3 linked regions of the Homo sapiens genome follow. The main gene of each other region encodes a partner of the protein of the gene in region 3 in a complex. Each region holds a gene or a part of one and is shown on either strand. Other genes may lie near its edges. A codon is read from its position in the direction of its gene.

Region 1 (4,119 bases), on a different chromosome or scaffold from region 3:
ACCCCATTTTACTCAGAAGTGTTCTGGTCTGGAGGATAAATAAGAGGTCACCCTCCTCCAGACCCAAAGATAGATTTGTGCCTGTGTTGGATGGGGTCGTGTGTGATTCAGATGGACATTGGATGGCTTCAAAGGAATATACCACTAGAGCTGGCCCTTGGCACTTTGTGACAGTGGTCAAGTCTGTCTAATGTCCTTGTCTTCTTTTTCTTGTGCTTTCCCCCTATTCCAGGGTGTGCACCCTCTCCCCAACCCCCAAGAACCCCACTACTGCTTTCCCTGTGAGGTAGGAGATATCAGTGGGCCTTGGATTTGAGGCTTCCTAAGATGTGCTTGCATTTTAAAAAGGGAGCTTGGTGAGAGCTTTGCTAATTCACAGGTAAAAATTATTAACAATAGAACTTCAAGCATCTTGAGGAGCGGGCATTTGAGGGGGCATGGAGTAATTTGTATTTAAAAAACCTTAAAGTTGTGCTGTTCCTAAACTAGCAAATTGCTCATGCTGAAATTTCTGGCATAAGCAGGGGAAGTCTTGTGTCTGGAGAATAGTCTCATACCTTGCAGTCTGGGACACCCTCCCTACTTTGAGAATCCACCTACAGGAAGCCAAGGAACTTTATAAATCCTGATGTTGGACTTCTGATACGACTGGGCTACTTCCAAGCAGGTGCTGCAGGAGATTGGCATCCCCCAGCCCCTGCAGTTAGAAACCCCGAAGTCTTCCCAGCCAGTGAGCCACTTTGTGTATTTACTGTATATTTATTGTGCCCTAAATGTGCAACTCTCCTAAAGACAAAACTTCTCTTTCTGATGTTAAGCACATGTTACTTCAACAAGATGCTTGGAGAACAACAAGGTACCCAGAATTTTTAGAAGCCTTCAGAAGAGGCTAAAATATCCAGCTTTGGGGGACCTGGAAGAAATGTCTCCAAAGGAAGCAAGGCATGTTTTAGTTGAGTGCTCTGGTCTCACTATGAAGTGGGGATGACTGTGGCTTCATAACTCTACCTGGCTGTGGGTTGGAAGCTGATGGAATGAGAAATGTCCTTTCTCCTTCTCTGAGGAAATTTTGAGACTTGTTTCGGTGTGTCTGTGTGATGGGGATGAGGCTGGGGTTGGGATCTGATGTATGCCATTCACAGAAGCTCTCAATTTCAGATGATAGGTGAATTCCCTGCCCCTCCCCCACCACTGAGAAGCTAGACTTTCATGCGGGAGAGGCTACTTTTATGTGTCGTCTTCCGGGGAAGGGTCCCTCCACTGAAAGCTAGCCAGTCATGTTTTCTGTTTTTGGATTTTTGCAATTGGTTTCACCTCATGTCTCCCTCCCTACAAAGCACTGCCTCTACTGGGCGTGCTGCCAAGGCCATGTGCACTCCATCCTCATGTATCCTTTTTCACGGGGACCAGAACACTGGTACGTCATCACCAAAGCCAATCTGCTCTAGCTGCCCACAGATGCCACCAAAACCTGCTATCTCTTCATCACCAGGTACGATTCTCTTTCCACAGTGGACACAGCAGGCTATTTTCTAGTTTGTGCTGGTCACGTGGTAGATGAAGCCTCTTACTGCCCCACTTAGGGTGGCCACGGCTGCTTGTGAATGCAGCTTTGCCAGTGGCATATCTGTCATCTGATTGCGGTGGTGAAATGGAATTGAGGCCCAAGGTTAGAAGCAGCCGAGACGCCACTTGGATACTGATTTGAACAATGTAGAAGTCAGATTCTGAATTCCAAAGTTATTTCTCATAAGTACCCAATGGCATCTCTCCATCTACAAAGTTGCAGTATTATGCAAATAAAACTGACCTCATTTTCTGCTATGCAATAAGAATACTTAATTCTAGTTCCCGACAAGCCAGTTGCAATATCCCCTAAGATGCTTTTTGAGCTGTCTTACTTTGATATCTGTTGTGTAATGTTTGTATATTTCTGAGCCAGATCCTTTCAAAGATTGCCTTTTTATAAAATTGAAGCTATAGCTTTTAGGCTAAAATTTTAACGTAGATATTTTTATAAGATATTTTTTTCAAGAGTTTGAATCGCTTTTTATTGTCCATGATAATGAAATGTTGTGTTCTTTGCATCATTCACTCTCAAACGTAGTTCATGCCTGTAGCTCTCTTCCTTTTGTTTCTCACCCTTCAGAAACATATTTTTCAGTAGCTCCAGGTAGATGAGCCTTTTTTTTTTTTTTAAAAATACCATATTCAAGGGAGTCTGCTGAATTTTAAAACGCAGTCACTGGTGTTTCTTGAATTGCTAGGGACTGATGTTATGTTCGACTCAGCACTTGCCCGTCTGTATTGATTGTGTCTTTTTTTTTTTTTTTGGAGTCTGCTTTCTGTGGGGGTGAGGCCGGGCTGTCTCGTGGTGGCTCCCACTGACGGGCACTGAGCCTGGTACCCTGTGGCATGGAGAAGCCTCAGGGAAAGGCCTGCCCCCCCAGCACATACTCCCATAGTGTCCTAGGTCCAGCCGACCATTCCTTATTCTCTTCTATCTCCTTGTTGATCTGAAGCTTCCAATAGCTTGAGGCCTTTGCTGCTGGATGATGCCCTTTTTGGGAGCATCTTGTCTCTAACCTTTAAAAGAGGGGTCAATCCTCATGATCCCTGTGTGTTAAGCATATGCTTTGCAGGTGCTCACACTACACTTACAACTTGCTTCTTGAGCTATGTCTCTACTCCAGGCTCTGTTTTGTGTATTTATCTGCCATTTGCATCATGGTTTTTAAAATTTATTATTATTATTATTATTGTTGGGACAGGTGCCATTTAAATTGCCTCCATGCTCCCCATTTGCACCTAGCTGGATCAAGTTGGGAGGCTGAGCAAACTCATATTCCAGTTAGTTGGAGTTTTTAAAGGCTCTGTTTGCCTGGAGAAGCAAGGAGGTTAGAATGTAATTTTTTTAAGCGTTTGCACTATTTAGAGTCCTAAGCCCCTCATGTTCAGCTGTGCTGTGTTTCTACTGACCAAGCAGGAGAGCCAGCAGCACTTCCAGCATTTGGGAATGGAAGAGATTTCTTCTGTAGTGGATAATTACAGCCTCATAGCCCCTGTGCAGCCTTCGTCATGGGACTCAGTGACTCATGGATATAGCATCAGCCATGGCAGGAATGCACAGGACTGTGGCATTTGCAGCATCAAATCACCCTAGTGCCATGTTTGGTTATGAGATTGTAAATTATTCGCTCCCCCATCCTCCCCTCCCCTCATTTTCAGTGGCAATAGAGGACCCTTGTTGTACTTCTTGTTTAATTTGCATATTATGTGTAAAATGCTTTCGTTGAAAGAAAACTGAAGACACTGAATGTGTATGTCTGTGTGGGTGCTCTGTCCCTGTGGTTGTCATAGCCAGTCAGACTTGATCACTGACACCCCGTACAACATATTGCATAGGTAAGATCCTCGATCTGGTGTTCTCTGCGTGGCTGTTAGGGACTGTATATCTTGTAAAAGAACACTTGTCACATGCTTGATCAGTTACAGCAATAGCTGAAGAAACATTTCCTCAAATGTATTATTTTAACAGGAATCATGTTCTAATTTCCCATCCTTTAATTTTAATAAAAGCTGAACTGTGTGAACTTTTCTCAGTATTTCATTTCTATAGTCCAGTCTCTCTGCTATGTCTCAAACATGAAAAGGACAGACTTATTCCTGTATGTCTTTGGATTAAAAAAAATTTTAAGATCTACTGGACAATATCTGGGTTCCTTGGTTTCCATCACTCACCCTAGCAGAGTGCCAGACCCACAAAGACCTTCAATGAGGCCAAGAGAGGACAGTCCCTCCAGGGGGTATTAAGTGGTGTGCACAACTGCCAGATAATCACTGGGAACCACTGAGAGTCAGGGTTGGTGGGGAAGATGGCTAGCTCAGCTGGGCATCACCATTTGGGAGGGAAGCCTTGTATGAAGTGGGAGGGGGTGGATGCCTGGCTCAGCTGTAACTTCTCAAAGCCTCCTGCTCAGAGACCTTAGCTCCCTCTCTAGTTAACAAACCAGTCCCAGGCCCTTTTGGGATGTCAGTAGCTCTGGCCTGTACCAGGTGACAGATGGACAGCACAGAGGTGTTGGACTTATCTTCAAGCTGGAGAAACTCAAGGGACCA
Region 2 (6,867 bases), on a different chromosome or scaffold from region 3:
GGGCAGATCACCCGAGGTCAGGAGTTCGAGACCAGCCTGACTAACATGGTGAAACCCTGTCTCTACTAAAAATACAGAAATTAGCTGGCGTAGTGGCAGGTGCCTGTAATCCCAGCTACTCAGGAGGCTGAGCCGAGATCCCGCCATTGCACTCCAGCCTGGGTGACAGAGCAAGACTCCGTCTCAGAAAAGAATTAAAAAAAAAAAAAAAAAATCACCCTGCGCAACATGATGAATCCCCCTCTTTACTAAAAATACAAAAAAAATTACCTGGACGTGGTAGTGTGTGCCTGTAGTCCCAGCTACTCAGGAGGCTGAGGCAGAAGAATCAGTTGAGCCCAGGATGCAGCAGTTGCAGTGAGCCAAGATCATGCCACCATGCCACTGCACTCCAGCCTGGGCGAAAGAGCAAGACTATTAAAACAAAACAAAAAACAAACAAACAAACAAAAACCAAACTTTCTCTTTTTCTGACCGGGACAGAGGAGTTTGTAATAATGCAAGCTGTTACTTGCAACCCTAACGCAAGCTGTCCTAAAGCAAGCTGTCACTTGCACCCACTGGCTATTCAGAGATCAGGGAGAATATTCTCACTGGTCATAAAGCCAAGCTCTCAGGACACAAATAAAACAAACAGGAAAGAGGTAGCTGTGCCTGGGAGGAAAGGATCAATAACAAACAGTTACCCCTCAACCAAATTTAAGCAAGAGTCACAATCCAGACACAATGTTTTCTTCTGCTAATTTGAATTTGGAAAGGAAGGGACAAGAAGTTTTTACCTTCCACTCTCAGCTGAGTACTACAGGCAGTGATATGGGACAGTTAACCTTGGTAAGAATGCTTACCTTTTGCCAGTTGTCCCAAGTGGGGTGTCTTTGCCACCCCACTTGTTTGTTGGGTGCCAGAAAGAGTAGGGGGAAAAGGTAATATTTTTTCCTCACGCATCACAAGGTTCCTGGTTGACACCCCTCTAACAAAGGACAGATTAACAAGAGAAAAGCATATCAATTTATTTAATATAAATTTTATATGACACAGTAGCCTTCAGAAAAAAGCCCCAGTGTCTAGTGAGGGGTCCGTTCTCTGCTTTTTTTTTTTGAGACGGAGTCTTGCTCTGTCACCCAGGCTGGAGTGCAGTGGCGCGATCTCAGCTCACTGCAAGCTCTGCCTCCCGGGTTCACGCCATTCTCCTGCCTCAGCCTCCCAAGTAGCTGGGACTACAGGCGCCCACCACCATGCCTGGCTAATTTTTTGTATTTTTAGTAGAGATGGGGTTTCACCATGTTAGCCAGGATGGTCTTGATCTCCTGACCTCATGATCCTCCCACCTCGGCTTCCCAAAGTGCTGGGATTACAGGCGTGAGCCACTGCGCCCAGCCGATTCTCTGCCTTGAAGATGGTGCTTATTACAGTGTCCTCACCTGGCAAAAGTGGGGGATGAGCTCCTTCGAACCTCTTTTATACACTGATCCCATGGTGAGGACTTCACCCTCATGACCTAAACCCCTCCCAAAGGCCCTACTTTATAATAGTATCGCACTGAGGATTCAGTTCCAACATATGAATTTTGGGGGTACCGACATTCAGACCACAGTGGCCTTCTTGTTGCTGCCCCAGGATTCCTTTTCCTCTCCTCTCTGGGTCCACCCGTACACCTGGTCCCATTGGGCCTTGGAGGTCAGTCTTCCCCTACCTGGAGCCAAGGGGGGCCTCATCTTCCCCCAGACCTGCTCTTGCTCTGGCTCCCCTGTAGGCAGGGTGGGCCTACTTCCCCACCCATCTCCTGGGCTCATTCTTCACACATCACTGGGCTTATACTGGGGAACCTGCTTCCTTCCCAGGTTTCTAGCCTGCTCCACTCTGGTCTTCACTCCCTGCCTGAGACCACAGCACTGTGGCTGGCTCCCTACTCAGTCTTCGTCTCTACCATATTGGCATCTGCCCACCCTGGCTACAGGGTGCCCTCAGGGCTAAGTCAAGCCTCCAAAGGGCAGGGTCTGCTCTCCAACCTTCCCTTCAGGCTCAGAAAATTCTGGAAACCTCCACACCACTCACTTTGAAGGATCTCACCTCCACGTTTGCTGACACTGTCGGCTTCCTGGAATGCTTTTCTTAATCCCAAAGTCCTCCTCTGTTACACAGTAGGGGGGTCTCCTCCAGAAAGTCTTTCTAGGAGGAAGCCCACTCCCATTTGGAACCTCTGCCTCTGGAGGCCAATCCCGTTCTCTTGATCCTTGTCTGGGACCCTCAGTTATCTCTCTGGACTCAGCCAGGACAGCAATTCTCTTCCGTGTATTTTCCTCCTTTTACATTCCCCTTCCACCAATTTTTTTTTTTTTTTTTTTTTTTTTTTTTGAGACGGAGTCTCGCTCTGTCACCAGGCTGGAGTGCAGTGGCGCGTGATCTCGGCTCACTGCAACCTCTGCCTCCCGGGTTCAAGCGATTCTCCTGCCTCAGGCTCCCGAGTAGCTGGGACTACAGGTGCGCGCCACCACGACCGGCTAGTTTTTTTGTGTGTGTTTTGGTAGAGATGGGGTTTCACCATGTTGGCCAGGATGGTTTCCATCTCCTGACCTCGTGATCCGCCCGTCTCGGCCTCCCAAAGTGTTGGGATTACAGGCGCCAGCCACCAAGCCCGGCCCCACCTTTCTTTTTAACCATGAGCCATCTCCAGCCACATCCTCCCCCTACCACTCTCTCCACCCTTCACAGTCCCTCTCAAAACCACAGTGTGGGACACTCCAACCTTATCCCATCAGGAGGCTCTGTGGCTCCAAGCTCTGGGCGCAGCCATTACGGATACGCCTCGGAGGATGGGACCTGCTCGAAGGTGAGGTGGAGAACAATGAATGCCAAGACCCGCGCACGGACCTCTGGGACCAGGCTTTAAGACTGGGAATTAGATTTACTGCAAAATCTCAGTAAAGGAACGGGCACACAAACTAGCACCTGTTCACTCTGGCGGTGTTAAGCGATTCTCCCCGATATCCCGCAGGGGGCGCGCTACGGTCAGCGGCACCGACCGCGGAGGGAGCGGGGAAGGAGCAGGCCGCGGGAGGGAGGGAATGAGCGCGTGACGAAGGGAACAAGTGGAGGAGAGGAGGAAAGAAGGGAATCAAAGAGGGAGGGAGGCAATGGGAGAAGAGGAGAGGGAGGGAGGGAAAGAAGGGGGGAAATGAGACAGGGAGGGAAGGAATGAGAGAGGGAGGAGAGAACGAGAGTTAAGGAGGGAGGGAAAGGGAATGAGAGAGGGAGGGGATGAGAGGGGGAGACAGGGAGGGAGTGAATGAGTGAGGGAGGAAGGGAATGGTGGGTAAGATAGGAAGGGAAGGAATGAGAGAGTGAAGGAGGGAGGGAATGAGAGGGGGGGAGTAAGAGAGGAGAGAAGAGAGTGAAGAAGGGAATGAGGAAAGGAGAGGGAGGATATGAGCGGGGAGGGAGATAGTGAGGAAGGGCAGGAGGAAGTGAGTCGAGGAATGAGGGTAGGACCGAGGCAAGGAAAGAGTCAATGGATTCAGACGGGGCGACTCTCGGCAAATTCGCTCATTCGTTGGTTCGGCCCCGCCAAGTGCCAGGTGCCGCGCTAGTGCGGGGACTCACTGAGCCTTGGCGATCGCTGCTGTCCTCCGCAGAGCGCCGGAGTGGAGCCGCCCCCTGTCTCCCCGCCCCAGGGCCGCCCCCGCGCTGCTACCCGGCCAGGCCGGGAACCCCCGGGCCTACGTCTGGCCCGCCCGGCGCCTGCGCGGCGCACCCACGTGACGGCCCAGGCCCCCGCCCCGCCGGCTCCTCTCGCCCAGCCTCCCGCCTCGCGCCTCCCGCCTCCCGCCTCCCGCCTCCCTCCAGCTGCGAGTGCGGCCTCGGCTGGCGGCGGCACCAGGTCAGCTGCGAGGCGTGAGCCGAACGGGCCGGGCGGCAGCGAACGCGGGGGTCGGGCGGCAAGCAGGCATCGCTGGGCCGGGGACAAGCTAGCGGCGCGGAGTCCGAGGGGCGCGGGGGCGGGCGCGGGCCGGAGGCTCGGGGGCGGCGACCTGAGGAGAGCCCGCGGCCTGACGTGGCGGGGACGCGGCCGGCGGGATCCCCGGGCGCGGGCGCGTAGGGGCCGGGATCTGGCGCTCGGCCAGGGGCCAGGGTGCGAGGCCTCCTCAGCGCGGCTGCTGGCGCGCCGGCCTCCTGGCACCCGGGCGGGCCCTGTTGCCTGCGGCAGGTCCGAATGCGGCCTTCCTGGCCGCGACCCTCCGCGCTGGAGCGGGCGGCCTTGCAACAGGCGGGCGATTTGGGGCCGGCCTGACGAGCCTCAGTTCCCTCGATCGGGCCCGGGGACTGCAGCCGTAGGAGCCCAGCCTTGCCAGCTCTCCCGGTTTCCTGAGAGGAGCCGGAGATCGCGCTGTCAGTGCAAAATCACCAGAGCGCGAAGCGTCGGCTGCCAGTTCTGACCATTTTAGATCCGGTGCGGGCCGAGCCGAGTGGATCTGGGGCGGGCAGCGGGGCACCGCCACCTTCCGCCTGGGCTCCTCACTGGGCGCCCTCGCTCCGGCCCTCCGCGGGGCCGAGTGCCTCCAAGACGGCTCCCTGGGAGATTCTTCCAGAGCGCACCCTTTGGAAGGCTGCCCCGCTGGGAATCAGCACCCACTCCCTCTCCTCTACCGCAGCCGCCCCCTTTGCCTTTGTGGCCGACCTTGCTTCATGCTGCCAAGGATTGAGTTTCTTTGAGGGGATACTGCTCGTTCGGGGGCCCTACAGAAGGCTGAGGGTATCTACTCAGTAAAATCGTACCGAACTGAAAGTTCCTCTGAAATGATTTTGACTCTGCCATCCATCACTTCATAAAAATTCATCTTGTATCCTTCAGTTTGTAGCTATGTGGCACATTAAGCTTCCTTTCTTCTCCCCACTGAAACTTCGAACAGTACAAAACGGGGAACTTGGCTTGTGATGACTAAAATTGGGGATATGAGACTGGGGGCGGGCGCGGTGGCTCATGCCTGTAATCCCAGCACTTTGGGAGGCCAAGGCTGGCAGATCACCTGAGGTCAGGAGAGACTAGCCTGGCCAACATGGTGAAACCCCGTCTCTACTAAAAATACAAAAATTAGCTGGGTGTGGTGACACGTGCTTGTAATCCCAGCTACTCGGGAGGCTGAGGTAGGAGAATCGCTTGAACCCAGGAGATGAAGGCTGCAGTGAGCCAAGACCCTACCACTGCACTCTAGCCTACACCATATAGTGAAACCTCTTCTCTACAAAGAAAATTTGAAAAATTAGCCGGGCGCAGTGGTGAGCTCCTGTTGTTCCAGCTTCTGAGGAAGCTGAGGTGGGAGGATCACTTGAACCTGGGAGCTTGAGACTGCAGTGAACCCCAAGCTGTCTCACCCCAGATAGCCAGGACTACAGGTGTACACCACCATGCCTAGTTAATTTTTAAATTTTTTGTAGAGAAAGGGTCGCGCTATATTGCCCAAGGTGGTCTTGAACTCCACCTACCTGGACCTCCCAAGGCACTGGGATTACAGGCATGAGCCACCATGCCCAGCCTACTTTGCACTTTTTTTTTTGGGGGGGGGGCAAAGTCTGGCTCTGTCGCCCAGGCTGGAGTGCAATGGCACAATCTTGGCTCACTGCAACCTCCACCTCCTGGGTTCAATCGATTCTCCTGCCTCAGCTTCCCCCTTCCTCAGCCTTCCCAGTAGCTGGGATAACAGGCATGCGCCACCACGCCCCACTAATTTTTGTATTTTTAGTAGAGATGGGGCTTCCTCATGTTGGCCAGGCTGGTCTTGAACTCCTGACCTCAGGTGATCCTCCCACGTTGGCCTCCCAAAGTGCTGGGATTACAGGCATGAGCCACTGTGCCCAGCCTACTTTGCACATTGTTTTTTTGTTTGTTTTTTTGTTTTTGAGACGGAGTCTCGCACTGTCATGCAGGCTGGAATGCAGTGGCGTGATTCTCCTGCCTCAGCCTCCCAAGTAGCTGGGATTATAGGCACCTACCACCATGCCCGGCTAATTTTTTTGTATTTTTAGTAGAGATGGGGTTTCACTATGTTGGCCAGGCTGGTCTTGAACTCCTGACCTCGTGATTCATCCGCCTCAGCCTCCCGAAGTGTTGGGATTACAGGCGTGAGCCACTGCGCCCGGCCACTTTGCGCATTTTGACTGTTGCCTAATGTTCTGTCAGATCACTGTGCCATGACATCTGTTCTCCTGAGGGTGGACGTTTTGGTGATTTAAAACCGTATAGATGTGGTTTTAAATGTTTTAAATGTTGCACCCTGTGCTGTGCTCCTTCCCAGCAGAGAATTGATTCATTTTTCAGCATATCCCCCTTAGCCCCTAGCTAAGTTTCTTAAATTGGACTTGGTAAATGTGCTTTGCCTGCCCATGGAAGATGTCTTTCTGTTTTACCGTACTTGTTTTTGCAGTATGGGTTTAGGGAGTAGCTGCCATTTATCCCTTCCCAAGAGAGCAGAGGCACTACTATGCTCACGGAAGGTGAGGATCCACCTGGGGGCTTGATGTCTATTGGGGTAGTTGTGGAGGTCACCCTCAGAGAAGGAGGCCCTCTTGACTCTGCGGTGGTCATGGTGGTGATGAGAAAGCTGAGGCGTGGGTATATGAGACAAGTGCCCAGAGTCTGTCATTAGCAAGTGGTACAGCCAGCCATGGGGGCTTTTGAGATGTTTGTGAGATAAAACCTCACCCCTCAAGAAGCCGGAATCTCCTTGTCGTGGGTAAATAGGCAGGTTTGGGCCGGGCGCGGTGGCTCATGCCTGTAATCCCAGCACTTTGGGAGGTCAAGGCAGATGGATCACCTGAGGTCAGGAATGCGAGACCAGCCTGACCAACATGGTGAAACCCCATTTCTGCTAA
Region 3 (7,765 bases):
TACGAGGGCTCCTTCTCTCAGATTCTGATTTCTACCAGTTCTAGATATAAGAGTTAAGAATATAGTTTTATTACGAACTGAAGACAAAGAGCTTATTAAAGAAGTTTAAAGATAATGCCATTGCCGGGCGCGGTGACTCACATCTGTAATCCCAGCATTTTGGGAGGCCGAGGTGGGTGGATCACGAAGTCAGGAGTTCGAGACCAGCCTGGCCAGCATGGTGAAACCACATCTCTACTAAAAATACAAAAAAAGGAGCCAGACATGGTGGTGGGCGCCTGTAATCCCAGCTACTTGGGAGGCTGAGGCAGGAGAATTGCTTGAACCCAGCAGGCAGAGGTTGCAGTGAGCTGAGGTCCCACCACTGCACTCCAGCCTGGGCAAAAGAGCGAGACTCCGTTTCAAAAAACAAAAAAAAGATAATGCCATTTTATTACATTTGTCCACTGTAGTATTTATAATTCATACAATTACTAAATCTAACATAAAATTTAGACCATTATTTTTATAGCTCTTTTGGCACAATGCTTTATCTCAACTCCAAAATTAACTTACTTCACAAAGACAGAGCTGATGAGTTACAAACTTCAACATATATTTTACTTGTCATGAATGAAAGCAATACATACTCATAACTGTCCCCTAGAGGTTTCTTGATACATTTACTGTTACAATGGTATTAATAAGAAGAAATTCTTTTTCTTTGAAATAAGATTACATAGAAGCCATGCCTATATTTTTAAATTGAGAATCTATATTATGTTCAATTGGGTTAGTTGGTTGTATAGATATTTTTATTTACAAAATGTTAATTTATTGGGTACATGTGGAATAAACAGACTGTCCAAGCCAACCAGAACATTTCCAGAGCTGCCAGGGAGATGATTTTCTTTTGTATGACCATATGATGAAATACTGAGATGGATTTTTATGATATAATCAGACATTTAACATTTTTTAGTTTAAGATGTAACGTCTCATATGCTTATGTGTCTCATATGCTTCTTGTCTCAATAATATAAGAAAAATTTTAAGGACACAGTAGAAAAGTTGCATGGAGAAGGCCTACAGTTTTCACATATTTAAGCATCTGTGGTTATGTTCTCAATGGGGTATTTGCCGACAATGTCATCTTATAATGCACATACACATGCTACTACCCTAAATATATACAACTCCATATCTAATGGCCTATAATACTTATTAGTTGCCTGGTAGAGACAAGAAAGTAGAAGATCTAGCCCTTCCATTCCAAGAGCTGATAATATCTATACATCTTTGCCTTCCAACTTAAAAACATTTTCTCTCTCTTAACATAGTCTTGGTCTACTCAAAACCATTGAACGGGTCTTTCAAATTGAAATTGTAGGCTTTGAGCTGTTTTAACAACCAATATCTGTACAATAAAATCAGCAGATCTGAAACATTGATTAAAGTGACTTGGTATCCCGAGTACCTAGAAACTGATGGTCAAGAAGAGGCTATTACTTCCTTTTACCAGCTCCTCACATCTTATATTGCTCTTTCACAGACTGGGATGTAGAAAAGGGGCTGGCCCACCCAACTGCCTGATCTCTCTGAATGCATGTGCTCCATATGCATAAATGGAAAGAATAAATGGAAATGAGGCCACTGTTTTCCTGTGTCAGGACACTGTCAGCATGAGTAGGAATACCAATCGCCAGCCATGCAAGATCTAGTGAGTTCCTATTCCAGTGCTGCTTTCTCTGCTAGATCAGGTGGCAGTTTGCAGAAAAGCAACATCCTGAAAGTTTATTTGCTATTTGCAAGTCAGGGAATATGACTGGGCACAGAAAAATAATCTACTGCTGCTTCAGAAAGTATTTCATAGACATTCTGAGGATGTTGCTTCCACAGGAAGGAAAATATCTGATTTCAGAACTGAAGCATATACAAAGTTGGGGCCAAATCCAATATGGGTCTGTGGTTTACAAACTGTGAGATGTGAAAAAGGATGTGATGGCAGGTCCCATCTGTCTCATTCACCCTAGTTCCTGACATACAGTAGCCATTCAATAATAATTATTGAATAAATGAATAACTGAACAAATAAATGAGCAGACTTCTTAATGACAAAATCATTTTGAAGCATTTTTCTGATCCTTGGTGGTTAAAAGCTTAAGGGAAGACACAGTTCACAGTGATGCTTTTAGACGCAGCTAAATTTTGGTTAAGCAACACCAATATACGAAAATCTGGGTTCACAAAGCAAATACATTACAGTTACTATACTTACTATATGCTTTACAATTAAGTAGAAACATACCTTAATGTAGTGGGTTTCTAAATGCTGGCCCATGATGTCTCCTTAGGTTCACAGTGAAATAAGAAAAATTCGTGTGACGTATTGTTCATTACGAGGCTGTTCAATTCAAGGAACTGTCCTTTATTCAAAAATGGATCTTCCCTCATTTCTGAGGTTAAAATACTTTTTAATAAATGATGGGAATAATCTATGCTAGTTGTTCCTTTTTAATACCCTTGCCAATATAAAGTTGCCAAATCTATAATGACTCCCTAGCTTATCAGAAAATATTTTATTAGTCTGAGAGATCCAAATGTCGGAGACTGGCTTAGTTTCAAAATATGACTCATTTTATAAAAGCATACAAGTGTTTTTTGTTGTTGTTGTTTAGAAACCTACCTATTGAATAAAGGAAGTAGTATAACCTTGGCTTTAATGCCCATGTTAATAACAGCCAACAGGTGGTAAGTTGCTGCTCCATGCCCAGTTCTCAGGGCTCTTTAAAACGTATTCATCTATTTAAATTTCACGGTAGCCCAAGGAGGAAGTATTGTTATTGTCTCCCTTTTACAGATGAGAAATTCTGGGGATTGTCAACTCCATGCCCCAAAAGATGCAAAACACAGCTAGTAAAGTGGCAGAATTGAGATTCAAACAATGGCTCCAAGAACACATATTCTTTTTTAAAATATTTTTTTATTTCTTTTTTTGGTTCCTCAGAGATCCCTATTCTGAACATATATTCTTACATTACAAAGAAACTGGGCCATATGAGAGTACAACCAAGAGAAAAACATTGTTTGTTATTATATTATGTTATGGAAATGGAGGTTCAATTAGCATAGAGATTATAAACTCCTATTCAAGGCTGACATTATCTTACATTGAAGTCAGAGCCTCTCCCAATCTTAGTTTATCAACTCAGTTCTTGATAACCTATTTTTAGCTTCAGTATTTACAGATATTGTCTTAAGCAACATTCTTGTTTCTTAAGCTCCTGCTTTAATTAGCCAATACCAAAAAACTCCCACAAAAAAAAAAAAAAAACAAGAAAATATGGTATTTGCAGTGGGGCGTTTTAAGCAAGAAGGGGCTTTAAGCACAACACTCATAAGCTTAGTCATCAGGATTAAGTTAATTTAGGGCAAATTCAACCTTACAGTCAACAAATAAGTGTATTTCACTTTATATTGTTTGCTATTTAAAAGTATTAAAATTCCAGCTTCTAAATGTAGATATCCATCCCCCAAACATATGCTTCTTTAAAATAGGAAGAACACAAACTTTAATAAGAACTCACGTATTCCCTTGCAGAGTCAGAAACCCAAACATAACAGCAATTGGGCAAGTAGGTAAATGAGGAAGTACAATTCATAACAAATGGACAGCAAAACCGATAAGTCAAATTAGACATTTTGACTATAAAGCGACCAAACGCCTCTCCTCCAAAACCAAAAGCCAAAACCTTTTCAAATATACAGCAACTGAATCAGACGGTAATTTTGGCTTTAAAAATCTACAATACTCTTGGTAATGGTAGAAATGATTTATCCGGTAGGTTAAAGATAGGTTTCTATCATTCCACTTAACATTATTTACCAAATGCTGCATTTCATTAATGGAGCTGTCAGTTTATTCTGATGGTAATGAAAAACAGGTTTTAACATGAATAAGCCCTGGGTCCACCAGAAAATATCAGTGAATCAAGAGGTCCCGAAGCTTATGCAGTTTAAGGGAACTTCGTAGATTAAATTTCCACCTTCCAGTCCTGAGAGCTGTGGTGTGCACACCCAGTCCGAATACCTTGTTGAGCATACAGGACACTAATTTCCGACACTGCAGCTAACTCCTGCACAAACTCTTCAAGTTGCAGGCTTCTACTCAAGTACCCATCCCTAGTCCACATGCCCTAGAAAAACACAGGAACCAGTTCGGGACGTAGTTACACATCTAGCACCCCACGCTCCTCCTCAAGACTATCCTCCTGCTGTCCCAGCCCAGTGGGGCCCAGCCCACTACCATCCCGCTCCCGCTCTCCGAACTTCCCCCCTCCCACTCCCCACCATGTGACCAGGACCCTCCCAACCGCCGCTCCGAGCTCCACCAATCAGCAACCACCTCCACCCAGAACCCGGGACCTGGCGCTCCACTTTCAAAAAGGCAGCTTAATCCTCCCGCCCTCAGCCACGCCCCCTTTCCGCTTCCCCGCCCCGCCGGCCCCTCCCACTTCCTTCAGTTCCCTGTTCCCCTCCTCCCCTCCGGTGGCGCCCACCCTCTCCCGGGCTTCGCCCCGCCCACCAGGGGGGCAGCGCGCTCGCCCTCTTCTCGCGAGATCTGAGCGTCCCCCGCGGCGGCCGCCGGGCTCCCCCTCCCGTCCTCCCACCTCCCTCCCCCGGCATCTCTCACTCTCCGGCTCTCCTCCCTCCCTCCTCCCCCCTCCACCCTCTGGGCCGGATCTCGTCTCGCTCAGGCGGAGGAGGAGAAGGAGGAGGAGGAGGACGACGTTCGGCCTGCGCAGTGAGATGTTTGTCCGTCGCCGCCGCCGCCGCCATCGCGGAGGAGCGCGATAAAGGGAGCCGAGCCGGACGTGAGGGGGACCCCGCGGAGCCGCCGCGCCAGCGCAGCCCCCCAGCCGCATCGGAGTCGCCAGAGTCCGAGCCGCCGCCGCCGCCGCCGCCGCCCCCGCCGCCGCCGCGGCTGCCCAGGGGCCGGCCAGCTCCCCAGCCCTGCCCGGGGGTCGCGCCGCCGCCGCCCCCAGCGTCGCCCCTAGCCTGCCTGCCCGCCTTAAATGTGACACCGGCGTCGCGGAGCGCGACCTGAAGCCGCCGCCGGGGAGGGGACGAGCACCATGTCGAATCTGAGCAAAGGCACGGGCAGCCGGAAGGACACCAAGATGCGGATCCGGGCCTTTCCGGTGAGTCTCTCCTCGGCGTCCGGGACCCCGGGGCCGGGGGCCGGGCCGAGAGCCGCACGCGAGGCCCGGGCTGAAGTCCCCCAACAGGCCGCAGGCCCGGCCTCCCCTCCCCCACGCCCGCCGGCCGCGGGGCGCGAGCCTTCCCGGCAACCGGGCGGCGCGGGGCCCCGGCGCGGCCGCCCTCCCGGGCCGTTCCCCGCGCCGGGAGCCCGGGCCTGGCGCCGCGCCCCCGTCCGGGAGCTGCTCCTTCAGCCGCTCCGCGGGCGTCGGCTGCGGCCGGGGCCCCTCGGCCGCCCCACGCCTCCCCACGTTGCCGGGGTTGTAGGCCCAGTCTCCGGCGCTGCTAGCAGCCGCGGAGTCCTCCCTGTGTGGGGCGTGTGTGGAACTTTTCACGTGGGGTTTCGCTACACTTTGAAAATTTACCCAGCCTAGCTTTTAGGGTGATGAAGGGGCTGCCCTCTCTCTCTGCCCCCCTCCCCAGGAAGGTCTATGCCATCAACCTGCCCCCGACGCAGTGACAGTGGTTCCACGGAATGCTCCGTGGTCATAAACTAGTAACATTGGGTGTATTTATAGCGTCTTTCATCCTACAAGCTTCCTAAGCACTTTACAAACTCTTGTGCAGGATTGCCTCGCCACTCGGAGGAAGGCCGGGTGGGGGGGAAGCAACAGAGAGCAAACCGGCCAATTGGTTCTCCATTTCTCAGCCTTGGGAGCCCAAAGAATGAGTGTAGTCGCCTTGCGGAGTAGCTTTGTTTCATCGCTTTCAGTGACAGCAAACGTGTTCTGCTCAGAAACTTTTTCTTTTTTGGCATTACGTTGAGTCGTACCCTTGCGATGTTTAGTATATAGGATATAACTTTGGGTGTCAAATCTGGTTCAGCTTCCCCGTGGCAAGCAATTAAAATGTACTGTTAACGAACTGGGCATACTTGCCTATGTCGCTACAATAAAAGGCATACGTCAAGACAGACGAACTAGCAATCGGACAGAAGATTTTAAAAAGTAAAATTAGAGAAAGATCTTGGTCTTCCCTTCTTAGATTCATAAATACTTCATATGATGTACCAGCGAAAGAGGGGGATTTGTTGTCACTTTTTAAAGCATGCTTTTCCTGAAGCGCAGTTGCAGTGAGGAAAGACTTACCTTGATGTGATTGCCCCAGTTGAGTCAAGTGATTTAGTTTCAGAGAACATGAGGACCTCTCTGAATTCCTAAAATTTAAAAGGATACACCTCATGCAGAATTCTGAAATTGTAAGAACATAAATACTAAAGTCAGTGTGCGAAAACCTCTGCTTTGTGTAAATAGGTACGATGGAATTTAGGAGAATAAGTGTTTTGATAATAATTAAAGATTTTTTGAATGTTTCAAACTTTTTTCTAAGTAAACGTGAGAAATGTTGACAAGCGAGTACTAACGAAGCTTACTAGTATGTTTTCCCTTATAATTGGGCAGAGCTGGGTTATGCATTTGTGAGTGATATTAATTTTCCTACTAAATTCTGACCACTTTAGAGTTTAGAATTACTTAGAATTTTATGAAGTTAATAGTTGTATACAACAGATTTTCTTTTTTTTTGAGACAAGAGTTTCGCTCCTGTTGCCCAGGCTGGAGTACAATGGCGTGATCTCAGCTAACCGCAACCTCCGCCTCCTGGGTTAAAAGCCTCCTGAGTAGCTGGGATTACAGGCATGCGCCACCACACCGGGCTAATTTCGTATTTTTAGTAGAGACGAGGTTTCTCCATGTTGGTCAGGCTGGTCTCGAACTCCCGACCTCAGGTGATCACCGACCTCGGCCTCCCAAAGTGCTGGGATTACAGGAGTGAGCCACCGCGCCAGGCCTATATACAACAGATTTTCTAGCAGTGTGTGCAGCCTTACACTACTCAATTCTTGAAGTCTCATGTTCTAAATAAGATTTTTTGCTAAAATGTGGAGTAACTCAAATTTGACATCAACTCACTCAAGTTAATGGCCTTCTGATTGACCAGTTGTACGTTAATGTATGTGTAATTAAACTCTTTGACCTCTTCAGGTTTCCCTGCTCTTACCTGTTTTGCCATCATTTAATTTGTTCAGCAAATACTGAATATTATGTGCCAGGCACTGTTCTGGGGGTCTGTCAGTATAGCTAGAAAGACCAAGATCCCTGCCTTTTGGAGCTAATATTGTTGGGGAGAAGAGGTGGGAGAGAATTTCATTATTCCTTTAGCTGACCAGTATAATAACGTTGTGTGATACGTTACCACATAGTACTGGAACTGAATTTTTTTTTGTTAGCTTCGTTATGATTATGAGCTAATTTGGATCCATTCTGTCTATAACTTTTGCAGGTTTTTCTGAAAACCTTACATGAAGTAAGTGACTAGTTTTGGTATTCAGTAGTTAATAGCTGCTGATTTCTAAAAGAATTTTTCATTACTGTTTAATAAGTATTAATAACATTCCTAAGTGATTCCCATTGGAAAGAACTATTACAGTTTATGGCCCTTTGTTACAGATAGATGTATATCTCAGTGTTAGGGTGTTTCATAGATTTATCTTACTAACCGTGTGCTTATAGACCTTCAAAATTCCTGT

Evidence for each region. The genes of interacting proteins can lie anywhere in the genome.
Region 1: the proteins of CUL3 (region 3) and KLHL3 are in contact, whole or in part, in a crystal structure (PDB 4HXI), measured with the Homo sapiens proteins. Residues at the interface, in NP_003581.1 of Homo sapiens: Ile44, Asn49, Ser50, Gly51, Leu52, Ser53, Phe54, Glu55, Leu57, Tyr58, Arg59, Tyr62, Thr63, Leu66, Lys68, Met118, Asp121, Ile122, Met124, Tyr125, Arg128, Val129, Gln133; in NP_059111.2 of Homo sapiens: Pro73, Tyr74, Ala77, Met78, Asp82, Met83, Ser84, Glu85, Glu92, Ile93, Lys94, Asp95, Pro125, Ser128, Leu129, Gln131, Met133, Arg136, Asp160, Val161, His162, Thr163, Thr165.
Region 2: the proteins of CUL3 (region 3) and KLHL22 are in contact, whole or in part, in a cryo-EM structure (PDB 8K8T), measured with the Homo sapiens proteins. Residues at the interface, in NP_003581.1 of Homo sapiens: Thr14 (codon at 5,154), Arg17 (codon at 5,163), Ile18 (codon at 5,166), Arg19 (codon at 5,169), Ala20 (codon at 5,172), Phe21 (codon at 5,175), Pro22 (codon at 5,178), Met23, Met25, Asn49, Ser50, Gly51, Leu52, Ser53, Phe54, Glu55, Tyr58, Tyr62, Leu66, Met118, Asp121, Ile122, Met124, Tyr125, Arg128, Val129, Gln133; in NP_116164.2 of Homo sapiens: Asp73, Tyr74, Arg76, Gly77, Met78, Gly81, Gly82, Leu83, Lys84, Glu85, Leu92, Ile93, His94, Leu117, Gln121, Val125, Cys128, Gln129, Gln131, Pro133, Trp146, Glu150, Asn151, Asp154, Val155, Arg157, Leu161, Phe162, Asp163, Ser165.

What each region holds. Positions count from the first base shown.
Region 1 is NC_000005.10:137,616,974-137,621,092, reverse strand, and holds the end of KLHL3 (kelch-like protein 3), read left to right. Parts: 3' UTR 1-3,593; downstream 3,594-4,119. UniProt on the Homo sapiens protein: Substrate-specific adapter of a BCR (BTB-CUL3-RBX1) E3 ubiquitin ligase complex that acts as a regulator of ion transport in the distal nephron.
Region 2 is NC_000022.11:20,492,770-20,499,636, reverse strand, and holds the start of KLHL22 (kelch-like protein 22), read left to right. Parts: upstream 1-3,841; 5' UTR 3,842-3,877; intron 3,878-6,072; exon of another isoform or gene 6,073-6,378; coding exon of another isoform or gene 6,379-6,489; intron 6,490-6,495; exon of another isoform or gene 6,496-6,867. UniProt on the Homo sapiens protein: Substrate-specific adapter of a BCR (BTB-CUL3-RBX1) E3 ubiquitin ligase complex required for chromosome alignment and localization of PLK1 at kinetochores.
Region 3 is NC_000002.12:224,582,359-224,590,123, reverse strand, and holds the start of CUL3 (cullin-3), read left to right. Parts: upstream 1-4,760; 5' UTR 4,761-5,114; coding exon 5,115-5,180; intron 5,181-7,765. UniProt on the Homo sapiens protein: Core component of multiple cullin-RING-based BCR (BTB-CUL3-RBX1) E3 ubiquitin-protein ligase complexes which mediate the ubiquitination and subsequent proteasomal degradation of target proteins.